2 separate regions of the Homo sapiens genome follow, and region 2 is linked to region 1. Evidence: fine-mapped expression QTL. Tissue or cell type: tibial artery. Region 1 holds a variant in brackets; the other region holds the start of a gene. All regions are shown on one strand. Distances are from middle to middle. Region 1 overlaps LOC105374928 (a long non-coding RNA gene). Region 2 holds the start of TMEM170B (transmembrane protein 170B).

Evidence for each region. PIP is the estimated chance that this variant, and not a neighbour inherited with it, causes the effect.
Region 2: it holds the start of TMEM170B, and the variant in region 1 is fine-mapped to the expression of TMEM170B in tibial artery (GTEx, PIP 0.99).

What each region holds. Positions count from the first base shown.
Region 1 is chr6:11,510,938-11,523,050 of GRCh38, forward strand. It overlaps LOC105374928 (a long non-coding RNA gene), which reads left to right. Exons shown (of 5, transcript NR_187824.1): 5 at 11,694-12,113. It also overlaps the pseudogene THAP12P5. Among named protein-coding and RNA genes, the nearest start is that of TMEM170B, 21 kb to the right of the region's middle. RefSeq lists an enhancer at 4,116-4,165. The variant T/G (reference allele first, on the strand shown) is at 5,846.
Region 2 is chr6:11,532,101-11,544,213 of GRCh38, forward strand. It overlaps TMEM170B (transmembrane protein 170B), which reads left to right and starts at 5,649. Exons shown (of 3, transcript NM_001100829.3): 1 at 5,649-6,274. The coding sequence starts at 6,178. RefSeq lists silencers at 5,113-5,942, 5,973-6,132, 6,233-6,312, 6,323-6,602 and an enhancer at 5,942-6,443.

The sequences.
Region 1 (12,113 bases):
GGAAACAATGTGGAAAGGTCTAGCATATGTGTAGTTGTAGTCTCAAAAGAGGAGAGAGAGCAAAAATATTTGAGAAAATAATTGGAAAATATTTCCCAAGTTTGGTGAAAGGCATACATTTACAGATATAACTATAACAAACCCAGTGAAGCCCAAGCAGGAAAAATACAAAGAAAACCACATGTATGCACATTAGAATCAAACTTCTCAAACCATGGTTAAAGAGAATCTCTTGAAAACAACCACAGATTAACCACAGATTAACATATTCCATAATGTAGAATGATATGAAATAACAATAATTTCTTATCAGAAACAATGGACACAAGGAGACAGTGGAATGACATTTCTAAAATGGTGAAAGGAGGAAAAAAGTCAACTAAATGCAAAAAAAAACATTTGAGGATGAGGGCAAAATAAAGATTTTCAGGTAAATGAAAATAATTTTTATTAGCAGACCTACAGTACAAGAAACACAAGGGAAATTCTTTTTTTTTTTTTTTTTTTTTTTTTTGAGACAGAGTCTTGCTCTATTGCCAGGCTGGAGTGCAGTGGTGCAATCTCAGCTCATTGCAACCTCCGGCCCCTGGGTTGAAGCGATTCTCCTGCCTCAGCCTCCTGAATAGCTGGGACCACAGGTGTGAGCCACCACGTCCAGCTAACATTTGTATTTTTAGTACAGACGGGGTTTCACCATGTTGGCTAGGATGGTCTCAGATCTCTTGACATCGTGATCCGCCCACCTTGGCCTCACAAAGTGCTGGGATTACAGGCATGGGCCACAGCGCCTGGCTAGAAACACAAAGGAAGTTCTTTAGGCAAAAGGAATTAATGCCAGGTGGACACTCAGTCTTTAGAAAACAATGCAGTGCCCCAAATGATATATAGGTGGCTAAATATTAAGATTTGTCCCTTTCTCCTAATTTGTTATAAATAAACATGACTAAAGAAAAATCTATATTTGCTTTAAACCCCACATTGTATTGTGGGATTGATAACATTTTTAGATGAAGTACATATGACAACCAAAACAGAAGAAGTAAATGAACCTCTATTTTCAGAAAGATTCTGCTTTACACAAAATGGTCCAATATTAAATCTAAGTAGGCTGTGAAAAATCAAGAATGTAAACTATGACCCCTAGAGCAACCACTTGAAACAATATAAAGTTATATAACTAAAAAGCCAACAATTCATTAAAAAATAATTCTCAAAAAAATTGAATTAAACAAAAAAAATTGAGAAAGTAGTAACAGAATTTAAAAACAAAAAGCAGGCAGGACCAACAGAAAATAGTAGTAAAACTGTTGGTCTAAACTCAACTCTGTCAATAATTCAATTAAATGGAAATGAACTAAATGCTCCAATTAGAATTCATAAATTCTCAAAGGAGATAAATGAGTAAGATTCAACATAGTTTCTCCATTAGAGATGAACTTTAAATATAAAAATACAGATATGTTGAAAGCAAATGACAGGAAAAGATTTATTATGCAAACTGTAAGCCTAAGAGGGCTGGATTGGCTATATTAATATCAGATGTAATAGATGCCACAAGACAAAAAGTAAAAACAGACATACTGTAATAATGAATAAATTTGCATAAAGACACAATAATTATACATGTATATGGGCCTAATAAAACAGGTTTAGGATACGTGACATGAAAGAGTAACATAATTAAAGGGAGAAAGAGACAACTCCACAATGATAGTTGGAGATTTTTTGTGCCTATTCTGCTTATGTAATATAGTTGGAGATTTTAACATTTAATAACAGCAATTGGCAGAACAAGTAGATAAAAGATCTGAATAATGCCTTCACTCTCCTTTACCTAATTGACATTTATAGAACACTACACCCAACAATTGCGGAATAAACATTATCTTCAAGTAACATGTAATGTTTACCAAGATAAACGAAATGCTGGGCCATGAAACAAGTCTCAGCGCATTTTAAAGATTAAAATAATGCAGACAATGTTTTTGGACCACAGTGGAATTAAATTAGAAACCAAAAACAATAAGATGTCAAAGGAGGATAAAATTCACATATCTGGAAATTTAAACACATATTGTCTATAATCCATGGGTCAAAGAAAAAAGTCATAAGACATATTAAAACTATTTCAAACTGAATGATAATGAAAATATATCAAAATTTGTGGAATACAGCTAAAGTAGTGCTAAAAGAGAAATTTATACCTTTTAAATGCTTAGGATAGGAAGGAAGAAAGGTATACAATGAATGACCTTTGTTTCCACAGTAAGATCCAGAGAAAGAAGAGAAAAGTAAATCCAAAGTAAGTAGAGGGGCCGGGTGTGGTGGCTCATGCCTCTAATCCCAGCACTTTGGGAAGCCAAGGTGGGAGGATCACTTGAGGTCAGGAGTTTGAGACCAGCCTGGCCAATATGTTGAAACCCTGTCTCTACTAAAAATACAAAAATTAGCCGGGCGTGGTGGCACATGCCTGTAGTCTCAGCTACTTGGGAGGCTGAGGCAGAAGAATCTCTTGAACCTGGGGGTTGGAGGTTGCAGTGAGGTGAGATCTTGCCACTGCACTCCAGCCTGGGCTGCAGAGTGAGACTCTGCCTCAAGACAACAACAATAACAACAAAAACAAAGAAAGTAGAAGGAAGGAAACAATAAAGATATTATAAGAGGAGGAAAGTATGAAACAGAAAACAGACAAATGATAGAGGAAATTAATAGGTATAAAACATTTTGGGGTTTTTCTAGGGGAAATGACATTAAAGTTTGACATGCAGAAGAAAAGAGAAATCACCAATATCAGGAATAAGTATGTGAATATATTACAGATCCAACAAACATGAACAAGTGTATGCTAATAAATTCAACAACTTAGAAGGAATGGACATATTTTCTGAACAATACAACTTACTAAACTGACACAAGATGAAATAAAAATTCTTAACTAGTCCTATATATATAAAAGAAATTGAATTTGTTATCAAAATCTCCCTCTGAACTCTGTTAAACATTTAGGTAAGAAAAAAATAACAATTTTACACAAATGCTTTCAGAAACCCAGGAGGAAGAAACACATCCCAGTGCATTTTATGAAGTCAGCCTGATCCTGATACTAAACTTGACACAGACATTTCAAATAAAGAAAATGAAAACACGAGTCATGTTAAGTTGATTTTCTTTCCCCATCACTAACAGGAAGGCAGGAGGGCCTGAGTTTGCGGGTAGGGAGTGCGGGCTAGCTTGCTGGTAGGGCTACAACATCAAACTTGTATGCAGTTCCCAACTGCACATGGAAGAAAATGAAGCCCAATCTGGCCTTCAGGTTACTACAAGACCTTGAAAGAAGCCTGAGGTGGGTGAAGAAATGTAGAAAAATTAACTTACAAGGTAAAACACCTGATTGGCTGAGTAAACATTATTGTCAAACACTTTGAGAACTCTATGATTTATAAAACTAGTACTTACAGAAGAGTTATTTGCAATTATGCTATGCCAGCAATGGTTGATTTTACTGGTCATCTGAACAATCCACATGGTGGACATTGAAAATAAATAAGATAATTGTGATAATTAAATCAGGACACAAATGGAAAAAATGATGAAACTCCTGAATAGAAACAAACCAATAAAGAAACAACAGCAATACACAGAACTCCAATGCCGAAGAAGAAAGTGAAGAACAAAATGAAGGCATTTCACCCCTAAACTTTGAAGAGAATAAAAACAAAGATCACTTAACATTTTTATTTGAAGTTTGGTTTTTACAAAATACACCTTTGGATGAAAATGAGGCTGACCAAATCTCAAAGGGTTTCTTTTCTCCTTTTAATGTTTAAGCACTGCTGGAGTTCAGGGTACTTTCTGGTGAGGCAGTCCTGAGAAAGTTCTTTGAAACACATTATTCAGTTTGAAAACACAACAGAAACAGGTGCTTGAGATCTACAAGAGCTGCACTGGGAAGAAACGGGGAAGTGAGAGATTCACTTCTTTCCTACTGTCGCTAATATGGAGGACATAGCTGAGAAAAAGCAATCACCGGTATTGGTTAGGCTCACTGATGAATCTCAGGGCCAGAGAGAAGGATGTGGGATTTCTCCCTCCTGAAGCTGATGCAGGAAGTTTGGCTGTGAAATGTCACACTACAATAACTGAGAAGTGGGAAATGAACAAGGAATTCTGGTGTGACCTGGCTTAGATTATATCTAGTAGACTTTCTTTCAAAATGGCAATCATGGTAACTAGAACTTTAGAGAAATAATCCCAACATATCTCCACACCTTGCTCTTCCTCTGCCTTAAATATGCAGAAGTCGAAATCAGTTTTCTGTTGTGGGAGGATCATCTATTGCTTTGGGAGCAATTAAAGATGTTCTTTTTTTCTGTTGATCACAAGAGTTTTAGAGCTCAATAATATAATGTCTGTCCTCTTTCAGAACAACAAAGAAAAGGCAAATGAACTGAAGGAAATCTGCTATTCACAATGTACAGGCATGCATGATGCTTTTGAAATGTTTTTGCTAGCAATTGTTTTGTGTTTAGATGATATAAAGGTTGACACAAATGTTAGATGGAATACCTTTATAGCTGGTTGAGCTTTTGTTCTCTGTAGTGCATTAATGTTTTGATTTAATTATAAATTGTTGTTCATAAAAGTATCCTATTTTCAGAAAGACCATCTGGAAAAAATCTCCAGGGCCACACCTCTGATGTCTTCTTTGCAATAGGCAGCTTGACTGCAGCGTTGCATTGCAGAAAGAGATTGAAGATATTTACATTTATTGTAAATTTTGATTTGAGGAAGCCGCAGGGTTGACAACCATACTTGATGCTGAAATGCTGGGAAATTCCTCAAGGCTCAGCAAGATAATCTAGAATCTAAATTAACCACAGAGAATTACTATAAAGAAATAGTGCTCCACCATGAGGCACATTATCCATGACCTTAAAGACATTTTCTTAGAACAGTACCTCACAGTTCCTAAATGTTCTTAAACAGTCAAAAGCAGTTCACTGGTGGCCTCGGTCATAGAACAGCTTACACTGAACACCATGCCAATGTGTACTCAGCTGACTTATTCAATCCTGATACATTCTCTGCCAACCTTCATTGTTGGAGGTTAAGGCCAAAACGCAGAAAAAAAGACAAAGAGCTTCCACCCACCACGTATAAAACTCCCTATTTATCTCACTTAAAGTTTTTTTTTCTTACTGTCTACATGTTACTGAAGGTCCTGTGTATTCTTCCTTTTGATGAAGTTTGAGAATGAAAGCTATGAAATTGGATGAAAGTGTCTCAAACCACAACTAAGAAGCACTTCAACGGACCAGAGGTCAAGTAACTTTACACTGCTTAACATAAATGTTGATATAAAATAGGATCTTAATTTAACAGTAGACACATATATAAAAAAGCTATACATAAAGCCAGAACTTCCTACAAGTACCTAAAAACCACTGAAAATGCCTAATAGTTTTTCTTTTTATATCTGATATTTAGAGGAAAAGCTGTGAGTTGTATTTTGGCCACTTAATCACTGAATATTTACCCACGGACCTTTCACTGAATATATTAAACACTAAAAACCTGCTGTTGAGTGGCCACTATTTGAACTTTCTTTCTTTGAAGACTTTTCCTTTCAGAATTTAGCATTAAAAGAACATTCCATTTCTGTTGTTGGCAAGCTAGGGATATTTTAGTAAAGTAATTTTGAGCATAATGTCATGAATCTAATTACCAGGTATTATTAAGTTACCAGTTGTTTTAAAAAGTAAATGTTAAGGAGGTGTGAGGAGAAGGAATATATTTTATAAAATATTACAATAAAGCACAGGATTGACCATTGACTAATGGGTGT[T/G]TTAGTGTATTGTTAGAAATATGGAAAGGGTAGTTAAGGAAATTACCAACCAGCAGCAGAAACTGTGAACTCACCAAACCGAGATTTCAATGTAGATTTCGTCTTTTTTATGTGGCCATAAAGACAGAATTAGAGTTTGGATAGAAAGTAATCCAAAGATGTTCCACATCTGGTTGTTTACATTCATTTGTTGGGTTTACATCTTAACATGTTCAAAGGAAGACATACAAGTGACCCAGAAACATATTTTAAAAAAGCACAACATCACTAATCATCAGAGAAATGCAAATTAAAACCACAGTGAGATATCATCTTACACTAGCCAGAATGGCCATGATTAAAAAGCCAAAAATCCAACAAGTGCTGATGAGGATACAGCAGAAAGGGAACACTTATATACTGTTGGTGGGAATGTAAATTAGTACAACCTCTATGGAAAACAGTATGGAGATTTCTTAAAGAACTAAAAATAGAACTACCATTTGATCCAGCAATCCCACTACTAAGTATCTACCCAAAGGAAAATAAATCATTATACTAAAAAGACAACTGCACTCATATGTTTATCACAGTACTATTCATAATAGTAAAGTTATGTAATCAACCTAAGTATTTATCAATGGATGATTTGACAAAGAGAATATCATATTATATATACATATATATTACGTCTCAGCCATAGAAAAGAATGAAATTATGTCTTTTGCTCAACAAGGATTGAACTAGAGGCCATTGTCCTAAGTGAAATAACTCAGAAACAGAAAGTCAAATACTGCATGTTCTCACTTCTAAGCGGGAACCAAACAATGGGTACACATGAACATACAGAGTGGAATAATAGACACTGGAGACTGTAAAGGTGGGAGGGTGGGAGGAGGATAGGGTTGAAATATTACCTATTGGGTACAATGTTCACTATTTGGATGACAGGTACACTAAAAGCCCAGACTTCCCCACTATGCAATATATTTATGTAACAAAACTGAACTTGTATCTTCTAAATCTAAATAAATACATACATAAAACCCTAAAAAAACACTAAGTAAACTAAGAAAAGATGGAAATTTCCTTGACCTGATAAAGGATATTTATGAAATTCTTATAGTTAATATAATGCTTAGTGGTGAAAGACTAACCGTATTCCCTTCAAGATTGGACTCAGGGCAAAGATGTACCCTCTTAATGTTGTAATAGAAGTCCTAGCCTATGAAATAGGGCAAGAAAATGAAATAAAGAATATAATGTTTGTTGATGTAGAAAATTCTAAGGAACGTATAAGCAACCACTAGAACTAATAAGCAAATTTAACAATATTACAGGATACATGGCCAATACTCCACAATCGTCCTTTTATGTACTAGCAGCAAACAATTGAAAAATTTTTAAAAATCCACTTACAATAGCAATTAGAAATATGTAAAATACTTACAAATAAATTAAATAAAACCATACAAAATTTCTACACTAAAAATTACAAAACATTGTTGAGATAAATTAAGGAAAACCCAAATAAATGAAGATATATACTATGTTCATGGATTAGAAGACCCAAATGAACATGAGAAAGAAAAAGACAATTGAAAGATTTACCCTATCTGAATTCAAAATGTGCTAAAGTTAATCAAGATAGTATATGGTATTGGCATAAGGTCTAACAAATATCAATGGAACAGAATAGAGAGCTCGGAAACAGACTCACACTTACACACTCAATTAATTTTCAACAGACGCACCAAAGTAATTATACTGGGGGCAAAGGAAAATTTTTTTTAACAAAAGGTGCTGAAACAATTGGATATTCAAATGGAAAAGTTTATGCAAAAGGAATCTGAATGTTCATCAATGCTTTTGTCTGGTATGGTAATCTGATGTGTTATCCTTTCCTATTTACATATTGGTAATGTAGTATCAGCTAATCAAAGCACTGTTTCCACTAATATAGTGATATTTCTACTGCAGGGGTACTCTTTTTCTTCTTATAAAAATAATCCTTTTAAATTATAAAAGCAACAGATTTTCACCAACAACAGCTCCAAAAATAACATATCAAGTAAAAATAAAAATAAAAATAAATTCCTTGTCATCACACAACCCAGAAATCACCAAAAGTGACATTTTGAGGTAGTCTTCCCAAAATAGTTTCTTTTGCCCACAGTATATTACTCTAGTGGTCTTCCTAATCTTCTGAATATGATGTCATAAAATTTGTATAATCTCACACAAGAACCATAGGAGACAGGGGAAAAAAACATTTGGATAATGCATTTTTCAACCTAATATTAACTTGCATGTAATTTTTTTCAAGACTTCTTGAGATTCAGTTACTTTTGTATTCATGTACTATGGCAATATTAGCTTTCATTTCATGATTTCTGCATTTTCATTTACTGAAGACATAAATTCTAATTTTAAGTTATATCCGAATTGTACTTCCAATAGACATCTATTTCTGAAGTATCTGCCAAACTTATAATGACTGTTCTTTTATGAAAATAACTCTATTCCCAATCCCCTATCCAAAATGTAACTTTAATGTTAAACAAGCATGACTCAAGGAATTAATTATGAAACAAATTTGTTTTTGTCATCTACTGTCACATTAAGTTTATTGTGCATGCTCCTTTCTTCCCTTGCCCCTGATGAAATTTAGGGCAAGTCACAAAACTGAACATTTCCACATTATGGTTAAAACCACAGAAGCAGTCTCTGGGCAACCAAATTTATAGTAGATAATCAGTTCCATGGCCACAGTTGATTGTTCAAGTTCTGGCAATCTGATTTAACTTGGGCAATTAGGCTCTCACCCAAGAATTTCTAAATTAAGTCCAAGAGTAAAGTTTGTCTCTTCATGTGTCCTGCAGCCATAGCCCACTTTGTAGCCTGAAGACCAGAGAAAGGAAGTCTTTAAGGAGAAAGAAGATAGGAGAAGATGCAAAAAGGAGAAGCAAAGATGTACAAACGTACTTCCTGGATTCTGTCAGCTGTCAGTTGTTGGTTTCACTTCCTTCCAGAACTCCAGTTTCATTCCTGCCTTTTGATTCTGTGAAACCCCTCAATCATTATAATGATTAATAATACCCAACTGCAGGTCGGGCATGGTGGCTTACGCCTGTAATCCCAGCACTTTGGAAGGCCAAGGAGGGCGGATCATGAGGTCAGGAGTTCGAGACCAGCCTGGCCAACATGGTGAAACTCTGTCTCTACTAAAAATACAAAAAATTGGCCAGGCATGGTGGTGCGTGCCTATAGTCCCAGCTACTTGGGAGGCTGAGGCAGGAGAATCACTTGAACCCGGGAGGCGGAGGTTGCAGTGAGCCGAGATTGTGCCACTGCACTCTGGCCTGGGTGACAGAGGAAGACTCTGTCTCAAAAATAATAATAATAATACCCAAATCCCAACCTTTCTTTTTTTTTTTTGGTCAAGTTGAGTTTCTGTTAAAAAGGCTCAAATAATACAAAAATTAATGTGGCTTGTGGGAGGTTTTCTCCTACAAACAACCAACCAGCCTTAATCATGGTCCATATACTTTTGGCTTCACCCATGGTGATAGCCCCTCTTTTATCTATTCCCTCAATCTGAGGGTACATTTTATTTTATTTATTTTTAATAATTTCAACTTTTATTTCAGATTCAGGGGGTATAAATGCAGCCTTGTTACATGGGTGTATTGCATGGTACTCAGGTTTGGGGTATGGATGATTCCATCACCAAGGTAGTCAGCATAGTATCCGATGGGTAATTTTTCAACCCATGCTCCATTACCTCTTCCCTCTAGAGGTCTCCAGTATGTACTATTCCCATCTTTATGTTGATGTGTACTCAATGTTTAGCTCTCAGTTATAAGTGAGAACATGTAGTATTTGGTTTTCTGTTCCTGCATTCACTTTCTTAAGATAATGGCCACCAGCTGCAGCCATGCTGCTGCAAAGGACATGATTTTATTATTTTTTACAGCTACACAATATTTCCTGGTATATATGTGCCACATTTTATTTATCCAGTCCACCATCAATGTGCATCTAGGTTGATTCTACGTCTTCGCTATTGTGAATACTGCTGTGATGAACATATGAGTGCACGTGTCTGTTTTGTAGAATGATTTCTTTTCCTTTGGGTATATATCCGGTAATGGAATTGTTGAGTCAAATGGTAGTTCTGTTTTAAGTTCTTTAAGAAATCTCCAAACTGTCTTCCATAGTGGCTGGACTAATTTACATTTCCATCAACAGCGTGTAAGCAATTACCTTTTCTCCACAGCCTCACCAGCATCTGTTATTTTTTGACTTTTTAATAGCCATTCTGAATGGTGTAAGATGGTATCTCACTGTGCTTTTGATTTGCATTTCTCTGATAATTAGTGATGATGAGCATTTTTTCATATGTTTGTTGGCCACTTATATGTCTTCTTCTGATAAGTGTCTGTTTATGTCCTTTGCCCATTTTTTAATGAGGTTACTTGTTTTATTTCTTGTTGAGTTGTTTTAAGTTCCTTACAGATTCTGGATAGAGTCCATTTTAGCTGTAAACTTCTGGTGCTTCCTGCGCACTCACCAAAGTGCTGAACCTAGAACTACTTAGACCATTTCTGCTCTCATAAAAGTTCAGTGTCAAACTTTTATGTATATTTTCCTGACTAGAGAGAGTAGATTGTCAGAAAATGATTATGATTTGACATTCAGTGACTTCTGTAGATTCTTTTTTTTTTTTTTGAGACGGAGTCTCATTCTGTCGTCTAGGCTGGAGTGCAGTGGTGCAAGCTCAACTCGCTGCAACCTCTGCCTCCCAGGTTCAAGCAATTCTCCTGCCTCAGCCTCCCCAAGTAGCTGGGACTACAGGCGCCCGCCACTACGCCTGGCTAATTTTTGTATTTTAGTAGAGACAGGGTTTCACCATGTTGGTCAGGCTGGTCTCAAACTTCCGACTTCAGGTGATCCACCCGCCTCTGCCTCACAAAGTGCTGGGATTATAGGTGTGAGCTACTGTGCCCAGCCTTTCAGATTCATTTTCAAAAAGTTCTAATTCCTTCTTGTTATTCACGGAAAAGAAATCAGGTTTTGTTTGCCTTACTATTATTTACAATATAGACAATAGTTTTAATACTGTGGGAATGAAGCACTTGAGTATTTTTTGTCTTTTGAATGTCAGTGAGTTCTATTTTCAGAAATTTGGCATGGGTTCAGCATAAATTTATGTGACATATATTTAGTGATTAAGACAAAAAGAATAGCACTCACTGACATTGCTAAATAAAAATTTTCCAGTACTACCAATATAATTTATCTTGTTTATTATAGCTTTAAGAATTTTTCTAGAAAACTGAAGATAGCAGAGAATTAACACAACTCTAAAATATCCTGAAAACTAATTTTTGCTTATATGATTGAGAAAATTATCTTCACATTTCACATTGCAGACTCTGTCTACCTTCAGTGAAATATTTTTGGCTTAGAAAACTAGTGTCTAGAACACATTAGGTTTCAGAAACAGTTTTTTGGCACTTCTGTAAGAAACTCCACTCAACTTATTGTGAAATTGTATTAAGTAAATTAAGTGAAAATTGTTTAGTAAGTATTCAATATTGTGTTAGGTGGTATAGCTATTAAGGGAAAAAAAGATGAGTTGTGGCCTTTGCCCTCACTTGTCTGATAAAATAGTTGAGAAGAGACGTAAAGCAACAATTAATAAAACAGGACAGCTCAGAGTAATGTGTATGCTGATTTTTAGAAGTTCTGAGATGAGAGAGAGAAAGATGGAGCAAATATAAACATAGAAGCTAAGAACAGAGGACACGGAGAGAGCAAGTTCATCCTGCATTTCTGACCACTTTTCTGTTATTCTTTCCTTGAGGCTCCACTGAAATGAATGAAACCTGAAATGGTAGAGAAAACTGCATAGAAGAGGTGAGATTTGATCTGGGGCCTGATGGAAGAGGCAAGATTGGAGAGGATAAAGGGTTGAGTGGATAACATAAGTCACAGCACAGAAATGAGAATATGCTCAGTTTTGCAGAGAAGCAATGCCTAACTAGAGTACAAGTGCATATTGAAGCCATGGGAAATTATACTGGGTGAAGATGGTGGATAAAGAGATGTCAGAGGAGTGTAAACATGAAGCAGCAGAACATAGGGAATGGCTGAGCACAGGGAATAAAAGAATTAAAATTGGGTTTGGAGAGATTAGTTGGTCAAGGTTATGCAAGACACACTGGAAGGGTGGAGACTGGCATCAAGCCAGTTAACTAGGGCATTGCTGTAGTGTTCCTTCCAT
Region 2 (12,113 bases), 21 kb after region 1:
TGGGGTGTTTCTGTGAGAGTGTTTTTAGGTGAGAGTAACATCTACATTGGTGGATGAAATAAAGCAGACTGCCCTCCCTCATGTGGGTGCCTCATCCAATCAGCTGAAGACTTGAATAGAGTAAAAAGGCTCCCCCAAGGCAGGCAGAATTCTTGCCTAAGTGTCTGAACGGAAACATTGCTCTCCTAGTTCTCAGGCAATGCAGTCTCAGACTGGAACTACACTATTGGCTCTCCTGGATCGCCAGCTTGCCAACTCACCCTGCAGATCCTGGGATTTGTCAGCCTCCATAATCGTGTGAGCCAACTTCTCATAATAAATGTCTTTCTATACATAGGCAACCTATTAGTTCTGTTTCTCTGGGAGAATCCTGACTAATACTCTTTCCCTAACTAAAATGCTGCATACAGTTGGGAGCCCCTGAAACCCATTTTCTTACCAATGTTTAGTAAATGGTCTAGGTTTGGGAGAAGAATAGGGCTATTTTTAATGGGCATTTGTCACTAAACTTTCATTTCTCCTGTATTCTCAATTTTATCACTTACCTTTCCTTAATACTATAGTTTCCACCCTACATTAAATTATTTCTTCATGCCCAAACATCACTTTCCACACTTTTACTAAAGGAAACAGTGTTATGGCCCAGGAAGGGCAGGTGACTCCCAGACAGCATGGATCTAAGTGGCTGGGAGCCAGGGGTCGGGGGAGAATTTTCACTGATTGCACGTCATATCATGAGAGTTTTGAGTCATATGAATTCATCACACTAAAAAAAAAAAAAGGTGGGAAAGAGGTAGATTCTTGCCCATCAAGAAAATCCTTCACAATTTCTTTCTGCTTGTTCTTTAAAATAAATAATTATTTAGAAGATTGCCATTTCCATACAGTTCTAAAAAATCTATTAATATTTAAATATTACAGTAATAAAAACTAGTATTCATTGAGTATTTACTGCTCCAGACTCCACTCTAAGCACTTAATTACTAAGTACTTTGATCCTCAGAATATCTCAAGGAAATATTATAATTAAATATATACTATCTATAATGAATAACAGATATATTATACATATAATAGAATATTATAGTTCAAATTTTACAGAGGAGAAAACTGAAAGTTACAGAGGTTAAGTAACTCACTGAATGTTGAATGTTCACTCCTGGTAAAGCAATAAAATCAGGATTAAAACTTAGGTAGTTTAGCTGTAGAAGTAAGAAATAGAAAAAAATATATACTCTTAAATCTGATGGAGAAGGGGAGGAAAAGGAGGTTATAAGGAAGTGGAGTTATATGATTTTAGGATTGCTGAGAGTGGATGGTCACTAGATACATTCTAAACAGAGGATGAAGTGTATATCAGTTATGGTCACAGAGATTACTATAAAATACAAAAACAAAACCAATCCTTTCAAATTATAAGGAACATAAACAAAGCAAAGGAAACACAAACCATACCCATGAAATACTTTTTTAAAAGAAGCAACAAAAATAGAAATAATAATATAACTATGATGCAAGTAATACCACATATTTATTATATCAACGACTAGAAATTATCTAGAAGTTCTTCTATTAAATTAGAAATTTCATATTGGAATACGATGTCAAACTCCTAAAACAAAATTATTCAAAGTTGAAAAAGAATGGAAAAATACATATCAGGCAAATGCAAACAGAAAGCAGGACTTAAGACCTTAACATCAGACAAGATTCACATAAATTTTAAAAGCATTTTATAATGGAAATTAATATATTTTTAATTTAAGAAAGCAAAATCACAAATCTTACATACATATGTGTTCACTAAAACACATAGAATCAAAATTCGTAAAGCGCAAACTACAAAAAGTACACAGAAATATAGGCTGAAATATATTATTTGTAGAAGACTTAACCTCACTCAGCCTGTGTTAAGACTGCATTATTTGTTCATTACCATTTGTTGCCCCCTCCCATTCATTCTTTCCATCCTTCTCTGTAGGCAGAATATACTTTTTTATCCCATTCACTTAGGGGCTTAACTATGCAATCTGCTTCAAACAAGGGAATGTGGATATGTGACATGCATGTGACATGGACCCCATATCTGAGCATGAACTTTAAATGCACCTGTGTAGTTTAGCCCTGCCTCTCTTGTCCATGCCAGAGCTGGGATAAGGATGAGGTGGGTGAGACAAGGTCTTGCAAGTGCAGGGTGAGATTCTGTGTTTATTTAAAATTTTGGTATTTCATTAATCATGGATTTTTGCATGAATTTTTATTTTTAAAAATATTATATTAGTATATTATTTATCTTGATAACAGAGTGTTTCAGAGTCTGTTGTCAAGACTTGCAGGCAAGGCTTTGCAGGCAAGGCCAGTGTCCCATTGTAGCCCTGGTTCCAGCCCTATACCATGAGAATGGCATGTACTCAGAGCGTGACATCTTCCTCAGCCTCAGGTATGAAATGAGAAGACCTGTGGAGCTGGACTGAGCTGAATCAAGCTGAATCAGTCTAGATTTTGGACTTGCATGGGGCCTGTAGCTCCTTTGTTGTGGCCAATGTCTCCCATTCGGAATGGCTGTATTTATCCAATGCGTGTACCCCCATTGTATCTAGGAAGTAACTAACTTGCTTTTGATTTTACAGGCTTATAGGCGGAAGGGACTAGCCTTGTTTCAGATGAGACTTTGGACTGTGGACTATTGAGTTGATGCTGAAATGAGTTAAGACCTTGGGGAACTGTTGGGAAGGCATGATTGATTTTGAAATGTGAGGACATGAGAGTTGGCAGGGACCAGGGGAGGAATGATATAATTTGGCTCTGTATGGTTTTATCAAGGGTCTCCACTTTTGCGTCTTCCTCATTCTCTCGTTGCCTGCTGCCACCCATGTAAGACGGGACTTGCTCCTCCTTGCCTTCCACCATGATTGTGAGGCTTCCCCAGTCACATGGAACTGTAAGTCCAATTAAACCTCTTCCTTTATAAATTGCCCAGTTTTGGGTATGTCTTTATCTGCAGCGTGAAAATGGACTAATACGTTAAGTTGATACCAGTAGAGTGGGGTGCTTCTGAAAAGATACCTGAAAATGTTTTTCTCAAAAGATCAATATCATTTTATATTTTAATTGATTTTAAAAAGCTTTCCTCTAGGTTGTCTCTGGACAGTTTTAAAAATGACTAAGGCTAATGGGTGTTCCCTCACTTACATGAGAGAAATAAACCAGGAATTTTGGTTTATGAATTACGTTTGTGAATTGTTTCATGCTGAAGGGCACAGAGTTGAAAGGAAATTTTTGGATTCACTTGGGGTGGTCCCTGATTTCTGACAGGAACGTGACTAAACTCTTCCTGAATTGGTGTATTAATTCAAAATAAAAAATCTGTAGGAAAGAAATTCCAAAACTTTCATTTGTATTAACTCAGTTTTGGGTTTCATAACTCTGGCTGTTGGGAAAATGTCTAATTCTCTTAAGGATATAAGCTTCCAACACAGTCAAGATCATTACTTTTATCAAGGAAAACCTAAGTAGCCTAGAGAGTAGAGATCTTATCTTCAAATGTTACAGATAACACCTTGCACAGAACATTACAGATAGTAGATGCCAAATAAATATAGACGCCAATTAAATTGAACTGAACAGCAGGGGTGAAGTTGTTGGGCAGCAAATAACATTACTGACTTGAGACTTCATTGCTGTGTCTTTCTCATTTCCTGACATGAACACTTGGATTCTGTAAAAAATATTTATTCAGAACAAGAACAATGCTGACTTTTCTATGAAGATCATTCAGTGATTCATTCAACAAATATTTGTGGTGCAGGTGCCAGGCACTGTCCCAGGTTCTGAATATTTTCACTGCGTGCTACTGTGTTTTAAATAATAGTGTGCAATCCTAAGAACGTAAACTAACTAAAGGTTTCTGATATGAGAGTTTAATGAGCCCCTGCTCAGGGAGTTTGCTGTGAACCCTTCACTGAATGTGGTCACATTCCCTAACATCACTAATTATGTAATGCCAAGTCCCTTAAGAATATCATTAGGTAACCTGCACTTCCCCATCAAGAATCTTAAAGTGAGGGAGTTAACAGTGGGTTAAGAAAGATAATGTGGTTGCTAGAAAGAATAATAGACCAGGAATTCAGAAACTGAGCTGTGAAGTGCTGTCATCTCTGTCAAGTCACTTAATTCACAGAATCTGTTTCCCTATCTGTAAAATAAAATTAGAAAAATGTTAAAGCGCTCTTTTAGGTTTGATATTCTGTAATCTTGTTAATAGATCTAATTAAGTCTAAATTCTAGGAGGAAGATAAACTCTACATTAAGAGTTTTGGCTCAATTCCTATTAATGGTGCAAAAATTTCTCTTATGTTGTGACATCAAAAAGAAAATACAAATAAACAAAGAAATAAATGTGTATGTAAATATTATTTTAAAGTGGTCACCAAGAGCACCATTTGACAGGTAATTTGACCCTTCAGTGCTTTGTCAAATATACTTCATGATTTAGCTACAGCAGGTATTTCTTCACTTCTCTTTGTAAATTTTTCTTTATCCAGATGGCAGAGGGGTTGAAAAAAGGTGGGGGGAGGGGCTGGCTACTGCATATTTATGTTACTGCTAAAACTTAAATTTTTATTTTTTAAAGTTAGAAGGTTTCCAATTTCGAGGAGTTTAACTTGTAGTTGGATTTTAGATGCTCCTCTGGCTAACGCTGGACATGAAGACAGACAGCAAAGCGTGGGGAGAGAGATCTAGTTTAAGTTCGAGGGAAAAAAATAACAGACGCAACTTAGATAAAAGAATACTACCATCAAAAAAAGGGGGGCTAGAGCCGGCGATGGCCTTGAGGATTAGGACACCTGCCGAGCCTGGAGTAAACAGGTAATGTCAGGCAGGTCCTGGAACCCCGGGAGGCCCAAGTTCTTGCTGCGGGAAGAGGGATTAGCAGAATGATAACGCAGGTCTGTTTGTGTTTTAGGGGTTTTAACATGCATTCTGCAAGTAAGTGACCTATCCAGGTCATTCGATTCAGGCTCAGAAAAAAAACCCCGCAAATTAATATATCTAAATGCTGAGATAGTGACACCTTTTTAAAAAAGTTATACATAAGCATCTTTATCAAAAAGCATTACATTTTAAGGCAAAAATCTGAACTGTCACAGTATCCACCTCACCGAGTTCAGCAGCCCCACCTTGGGTCAGGGCTGCCCCTGCAGCGCGGGCCCCCGAAATGCCCGCACCGCCCACGCCGCCCGCACCGCGCGCACCCAGCCGGGCCAGGGCGAGGGATCCAGGTCTCCCGGTCTCTCAGGGCGCGCGCCCGGGGTCCGGGGGTGGGGGGCGTGGAGGCGGTTCCCTTGGAGCGCCCAATCAGCAGTAAGGCCCGGCGGTGGCGCCAGTGACGTAGACCGCGCTTCCCTCCGCCCCACTGCGGGCCGTCGCTCGGCGCCGTCAGCCACGCGCGCTGCAGCGCGAGGGGAGAGCGAGAAGGAGGGCTTTGGGGCCGACCGGCTGTTGGAGGGCGGCGGGTCGCGGGGAGCGGGGGAGTGAGCATGCGCAGCGGCTCCGGGGAGCGCAGGGGAGGAGGGGCCGGCGCTGAGAGGCGCGCGCGTGCGCGTGCACGAGTGGCCCGCCGGCGGCTGCGGGTGGAGGGGGCGGTTCCTCGAGTGTCGGCGACCCGAGGGCGGGCAGGCGGGCGGCAGGTGCCGCCGCAGCCTCTGGCTGGTCCCGCGTCTCCGTCCTCCGGCGGCGATGAGCTGGGCCCTGTCGGGGGCTGCACCTGCCGGCTGCCCATCAGCACCGGCCTCCTGGCGTGACCTCGGCCTCCTCGCGTGTCCAGTCCCCGCGGCGCGGCGCTGCCCCTGAGAGGGAGCGGCGGCGGCCTCCTCCGCCCCGAGTCCTCGCTCGGGGGCCGCGCGAGGACGGCGCCCGGCCCCCTCCCCTCCTTCCTCCGTCCGCCGTCCTCAATGTCTCCCCGGCGGGGAGGGGGCTGCCTGGGAGACACGCTGAGCGGCCCCCCCACGGAGGCCCTCCGGCTGCAGCAGCAGCAGCGCCCGGCCCGGCGTCCCGCAGCCTCCACCAGCGGCGGCGGCCTGGAGGAGCCGCGCACCCGCCGCCGCCCCCCGAGCCTCGCAGCCGCCGCCGCCGCCCGGCACCCGAGGAGAGGGCGGCGGGCGCCCCTCGGGGAAGATGAAGGCGGAGGGGGGCGACCACTCCATGATCAACCTGTCGGTGCAGCAGGTCCTGAGCCTCTGGGCCCACGGGACGGTGCTGAGGAACCTCACGGGTAATTGACGCGCCTGGGCTGGGGACGGGGATGCGGTCCGCCCCTCTCCTGTCTTCTCCTTCCTCGGGAGGGGACACGCTCCTCGCCGCCCCACCCCCGTGCGCGCCCCGCTCGGAGCTCCAGGTCCCGGCGAGGAAGGTGTTAATCGGAGCCACTCTGCGCGTGTCCCGGGGGCGCCGGCTCCCGCCACCCCCTTCCCTGAGTCGCCAGGGGAGCATCAGCGACCCCCGCTCCTGCCCCGCACGGGGAGAGCTCCCGGTGGCGGCCCGGCCTCTGTAGTACGCGCGGAGTAGCTTTAGTGCTGAGACTTGAGCGCATTTCGCTTTTATTCCATTACCCTCCTCCCCTCCCCCTTCTACACACATCGCTTCTTGCTATTTACATCTTTTTCTGATTTAGTTCTTTTTCTTTCTGGCAAATCTCAAGCCAAATGTAGAACCTAAAATCATTGCCCACAATGGTCGATTTACTTTTTCAACCGCTAATTTTTTGGGCGATGTAGATAACTGAGTAAATTATAGTGGGTCAGGGGCTGAGCTAAGGTCTAGTGCGGTCTAAGCGTGTTAGCTTCATATATCTCCTTCCCCTCCCATTTCCTTTTGTCTGTCTGTCTCTTTCCCTCAGGCCTCCAGCTGCTGCTTCTGAGACATTTGATAATTTTGTGTATTTCCCTTCATTTATTAAGGCTGTCAGTAATTGGCCTTATAACATCAATTTCTATTTGTAAAAGTGAGTGATAAAACACACAATATTTTTATTCAGTCTGTAGATTTGCTTTGTGAAGAAACTTCTGGTTTTGTTATGTGGAAATGCTTACATTATACTTTGAGTTCCGAATTTAAAAATTATTCTCTGAAGTAGAATTTACGAGAAAGAGATTCAGTTGCGATTTGGTGACTCCTCAGTGCCTGCTTTTCAGAGGAAAAAAATCTTAAAAAAATACTCAGAATTTAATTCTTGAAAATGTGTAAGGCAGTTAATTTCAGTAGAACATTAGTATTTCAAAATGCATTTTGTCAAACTGGTTAAAGTGTTGTGAGTATTTTACAAATATAACCTGGGTTCATATATATAACATATATATAAAGTCTGGCATGGTATAGAATACAAACATTCATAGAAGAAAATTTTATGGAATTATATACCACAAAAGACAACTTTAAGGACACTGGTTTCTTCGAATGGAAACTATACAGTTAAAGTAGATTCTGGATTGCTTCATGCTATCCTCACTTTTAAGCTGTGGTTATTTAACTTGAAACAGACTGACTTTACATGATGATTGCCGGTAAGGAATATATTGTTATAATTCTGGAAAACTAAATGGACATAAAGACCATCTCATGATTCAGTTGAATTTAGAGGTAGACTGCTTTATCTTACTTATGATTTTGCTTGCATTTATCCACTGTTTGGTATTTGAACTGTACCAGTTTTTGTTTAAGTGAAATGAAAAGTAGGGACTTAACATATATTTGTGCAGGCATACCTTGGAAAGATTGCAGGTTTGGTTCCAGAACACCACAATAAAGCAAATATTGCAATAAAGTGAGCCAAATGAATTTTTTGTTTTCCTAGTGCATGTAAAAGTTACATTTTACCTGTAGTCTTTAAATGTGAAATAGCATTATGTCTGAAAAAAAAGTACAGACGTTAATTTAAAAATACTTTATTGCTGAAAAATTGCTAACGATCATCTGAGCCTTCAGCAAGGACGTTATCTTTTTTCTGGTAGAGGGTCTTGTCTTTGTGTTGATGACTGCTGACTGATCAAGGTGATGATTGCTGGAGATTGGGATGATGGCAGTTTTCTTAAAACAGCAATGAAGTTTGCCACTAAGGAAGAGCAATAGACTCTTCCTTTCATGAAAGATTTCTCTGTAGCATGGGATGCTGTTGGGTAGCATTTTATCCACAGTAGAACTTTCAAAATTGGAGTCAGTCCTTTCAAACCCTGCTGCGGCTTTATCAACCGAGTTTATCTAATAGTCTAAATCCTTTGTTGTCATTTCCACGGTGTTCACATGATCTTCACCAGGAGTAGATTGCATCTCAAGAAACCACTTTCTTTGCTCATCCATAAGAAGCAACTCCTCATCCATTCAAACTTTATCATGAGATTGCAACAATTCAGTCACATCTTCAGGCTCCACTTCTAATTCTAGTTCTCTTGCTATTTCGACCACACCTATGGTTACTTCCTCCACTAAAGTGTTGATCCCCTCAAAGTCATCCATGAGGAATGGAGTCAATTGCTTTCCAACTCCTATGAAAGTTGATATTTGGACCTCTTCTCATGAGTCACGATTGTTCTTAAGGGCATCTGGAATGGTGACTCCTTTCCAGAAGGTTTTCAATTTCCTTTGCCCAGGTCCATCAGAGGAATCACTATCTCTGGCAGTTTTAGCCTTCTTACACAGTGTATTTCTTAAATAATAAGACTAGAAAGTCAAAATTACTCTTTGATCCATGGTCTGCAGAATGGATGTTGTGTTAGCAGTCATGAAAACAACATTGATCTACTTGGACATCTCCATCACAGCTCTTGGTTGACCAGGTACATTGTCATTGAAGAAAATACTCATTAAAATGAAAGGAATCTTTTTTTTTTCTGAGCAGTTCTCAACAGTGGGCTTCACATATTCAGTAGGCCGTGCTGTAAACTGATGTACTGTCATCCAGGCTTTTTTGTTTCATTTATAGAGCACAGCCAGGGTAGATTTAGCATAATTCTCAAGGGCGCCAGAATGGTAAATGAGCATTGGCTTTAATATAAAGTCACCAGCTGCATTAGCTCCTAAGAAGAGTCAGCCTGTCCTTTGAAGCTTGGAAGTCAGGGATTGACTTCTCTCTAGCTGTGCAAGTCCTAAATGGCATCTTCTTCTGATATAAGGCTGTTTAATCTACATGGAATATCTGTTGTTTGGGGTAGCCACCTTCATCAGTTAGCTAGATCTTCTGGATAATTTGTGCTTCTACATCAGCATTTGCTGCTTCACCTTGCACTTTTATGTTATAGAGGTGTCTTTTGTTAAACCTAAAGAACTGACATCTGCTAGTATCAAACTTTCTTTTGCAGCTTTCTCACATCCCAGCCTGCATGGAATTGAAGAGAGTTGGGGTCTTTCTCTGGGTTAGGCTTTGGCTTAGGGGAGTGTTGTAGCTGGTTTCATCTTCTATTTAGACCACTCAAACTTTCTTCATATCAGAGAGCAGTCTGTTTTGCTTTCTTATGATTTGTGTGTTCACTAGTGTAACACTTTTAATTTCCTTTAAGAATTTTTCTTTGCATTTGCAACTTGGCTGTTTGGTACGAGAGGCCTAGCTTTCAGCCTAACTCATCTTTGAACGTGCCTTCCTCATTAAGCTTTATCATCTCTAGCACTTGATTTAAAGTGAGATATCTGACTCTTTTTTTCACTTGAACACTCAGAGGCCAATGTAGGATTATTAGTTGGCCTGATTTCAATATTGTTGTATCTCAGGGAATAGGGAAACCCGAGGAGAGGGAGAGAGACTGAGGAATGGCTGGTTGGTGGAGCAGTGAGAACACACAAGATTTATCGAGTAAATTATCGAGTAAAATAGTAACATCAGAGATCACTTATCACAGATCACTATAATAATAAAATACAATAATAAAATAATAATAAGATAATAAAATTTGAAATATTGTTAGAATTACCAAAATGTGACACAAAGTGAGCCCATGCTGTTGGAAAAATGGTACTGATAGACTTGCTTGACACAGAGTTGCCTCAAACTTACCATTTGTAAAAGCCAAAATAAAGTGAAGTACAATAAAACAAGGTATGCCTGTAGATATTAATCACTGGATTAGCTCATCAAAGGGTTTTTAGAGAAAGTTAGCTTTGGGAGCCATAGAGTAAATGTAAATGTAACTTAACTCCTGGCCAGCTTCAACAATATTTTTAAATAAGTAAGATTCTAATGATTATAATTGCCTCCAGTTCTGCAAGTCAACCATTAAGCTGATAATAGTAGTTATTCATCCAGGGTTAGCTCCAATATGTCTTTCAATATGATCTTAATACTTGCCAGTTGCTCATTGGACCTTGCCATTTCATAAAGGATATGCCGAACATCCCAAACTAGGACTGAGGCGGGACTGAGGACCATGGGAACCTCTACTAGGAAATAACTACTGTCTGAATATGTGAAATTCTAGGCGTCAGGATAAAAATGCAGAAAGAAACAGATTAGAAATATGTTTCACTAGTGGTAGAGTGTACCACGTTAGGAACCACATCTCTTCTCAACAGTGGCAGTCTATAAGTGATAATATTCTGATGGGATTCATTGTGGCCTTCTCCATGCCAGTGACCTTAGTGATTTGGTGTGTATCTTAATCATTAGTTAACAGATGCTGCCTACAGTGCCATTTACAACTTTGTCTGCTCAAAAGAGGCGAGTAAACACAACTTCTGAAACATCTGTCATTTGTTGAATGGCCGCTGTGTGTTAGGCACTTTACATATATTATTTCTAATCTTCAGAATAACTCTTCAAAGTACATTTGAAAGGAAACTCAGAGAGGTAAATTAAATTGTCCCAAATCTTATAGCTAGTATATGACTGAGCTGGGCTTTAGACCCAAGTCTTTGCCTCTAGACTCCTCTTTCTTCTTTACCATGCTACTTCAGCTACTTCCTCCTTACTTTCTTCACGCAAAATTAATTTCTTGCTTCATCTTGCTACTTCTGCTCTTTGTACATATTTTTATTATGTTTTTCAATTACGTTATAATTTGTATTTATCTCTTCTAGACTGTGAGCTTTTTGAGGGTCAGTCCATTGCCTCACCTTTGAATTCTTATACCCTAGCATTATAGTACCTGGCACGTAGTAAATGATAAATATATGTTTATTGAGATGAATTTTTAAAATTTTAACAGTTGCTTGATTTAAACATTCTATATTGCATTGTTTCTCATCTGCATCTCTTGGAGTGAATATGCTGTTAAGGAAGAATGAAGTGTTTAAGCAACTCATATAAATCATTTTTATACATACCTTTAAAACATGCAAATGCTTATTGAGAGTAGTTTTCTGTGTTGGGTATAATGCTTTCATATATTTTGTTTAATCTTTTAGGCAATCCTGAGAGATTATTGTTCTTATTTTACAGATTCAGATACTGAAGCAAAGAGTAACTTGCTTAGATCTGATAGCTAATAGTGAAAAAGTCATTATCTTTTTTCATAATATGATAACACATATGTTAACTCAGAAGGCATTTTTTCGTCATCATAAACTTGGAAATGAAACTAATAGAAAGGAGCATAGTCTAGAACCAGTACTACTTGGATTTAAGAAATAACTGTGTGAAGGATTTGCACAAATTTGCTTAATAGGCATTCTGATTAATTGGATACCAAATGAAAGGGAAATATGCTGTCACTAGTGTTTTTTTCCCATGTACAAAGAGATGTGATGTGATTTTTCACCTTGTGTATTATCCCAATAGGTGAAGTGGGAAAATATACTGACCTTTTTATCTTAGAGACTGACCTCTAGAAAGTAGTCTTGTTTATATATTACTTTGATAAAAATAAATTCTTAAAAAGTAATAATGAGAACTACAAACATCTTAACATTTTACAGCCAGAACGACTTAATTTTAGAAATATTGAAATATCACTCCATCAGTGAAGTGACATGGCTGAGATCAGTTATTTAATGACAGAGGCAGGACTGGAACCAGAGTTTCCTGGACCTTTGTTCTCTGCCTTTCCTTTTTCTCCTACATAGCTTGTTAACTCAGGCAGGTCGAGAGAGAATAAATATTACGGTACAGGTTGAACATTCCTAATCTGAAA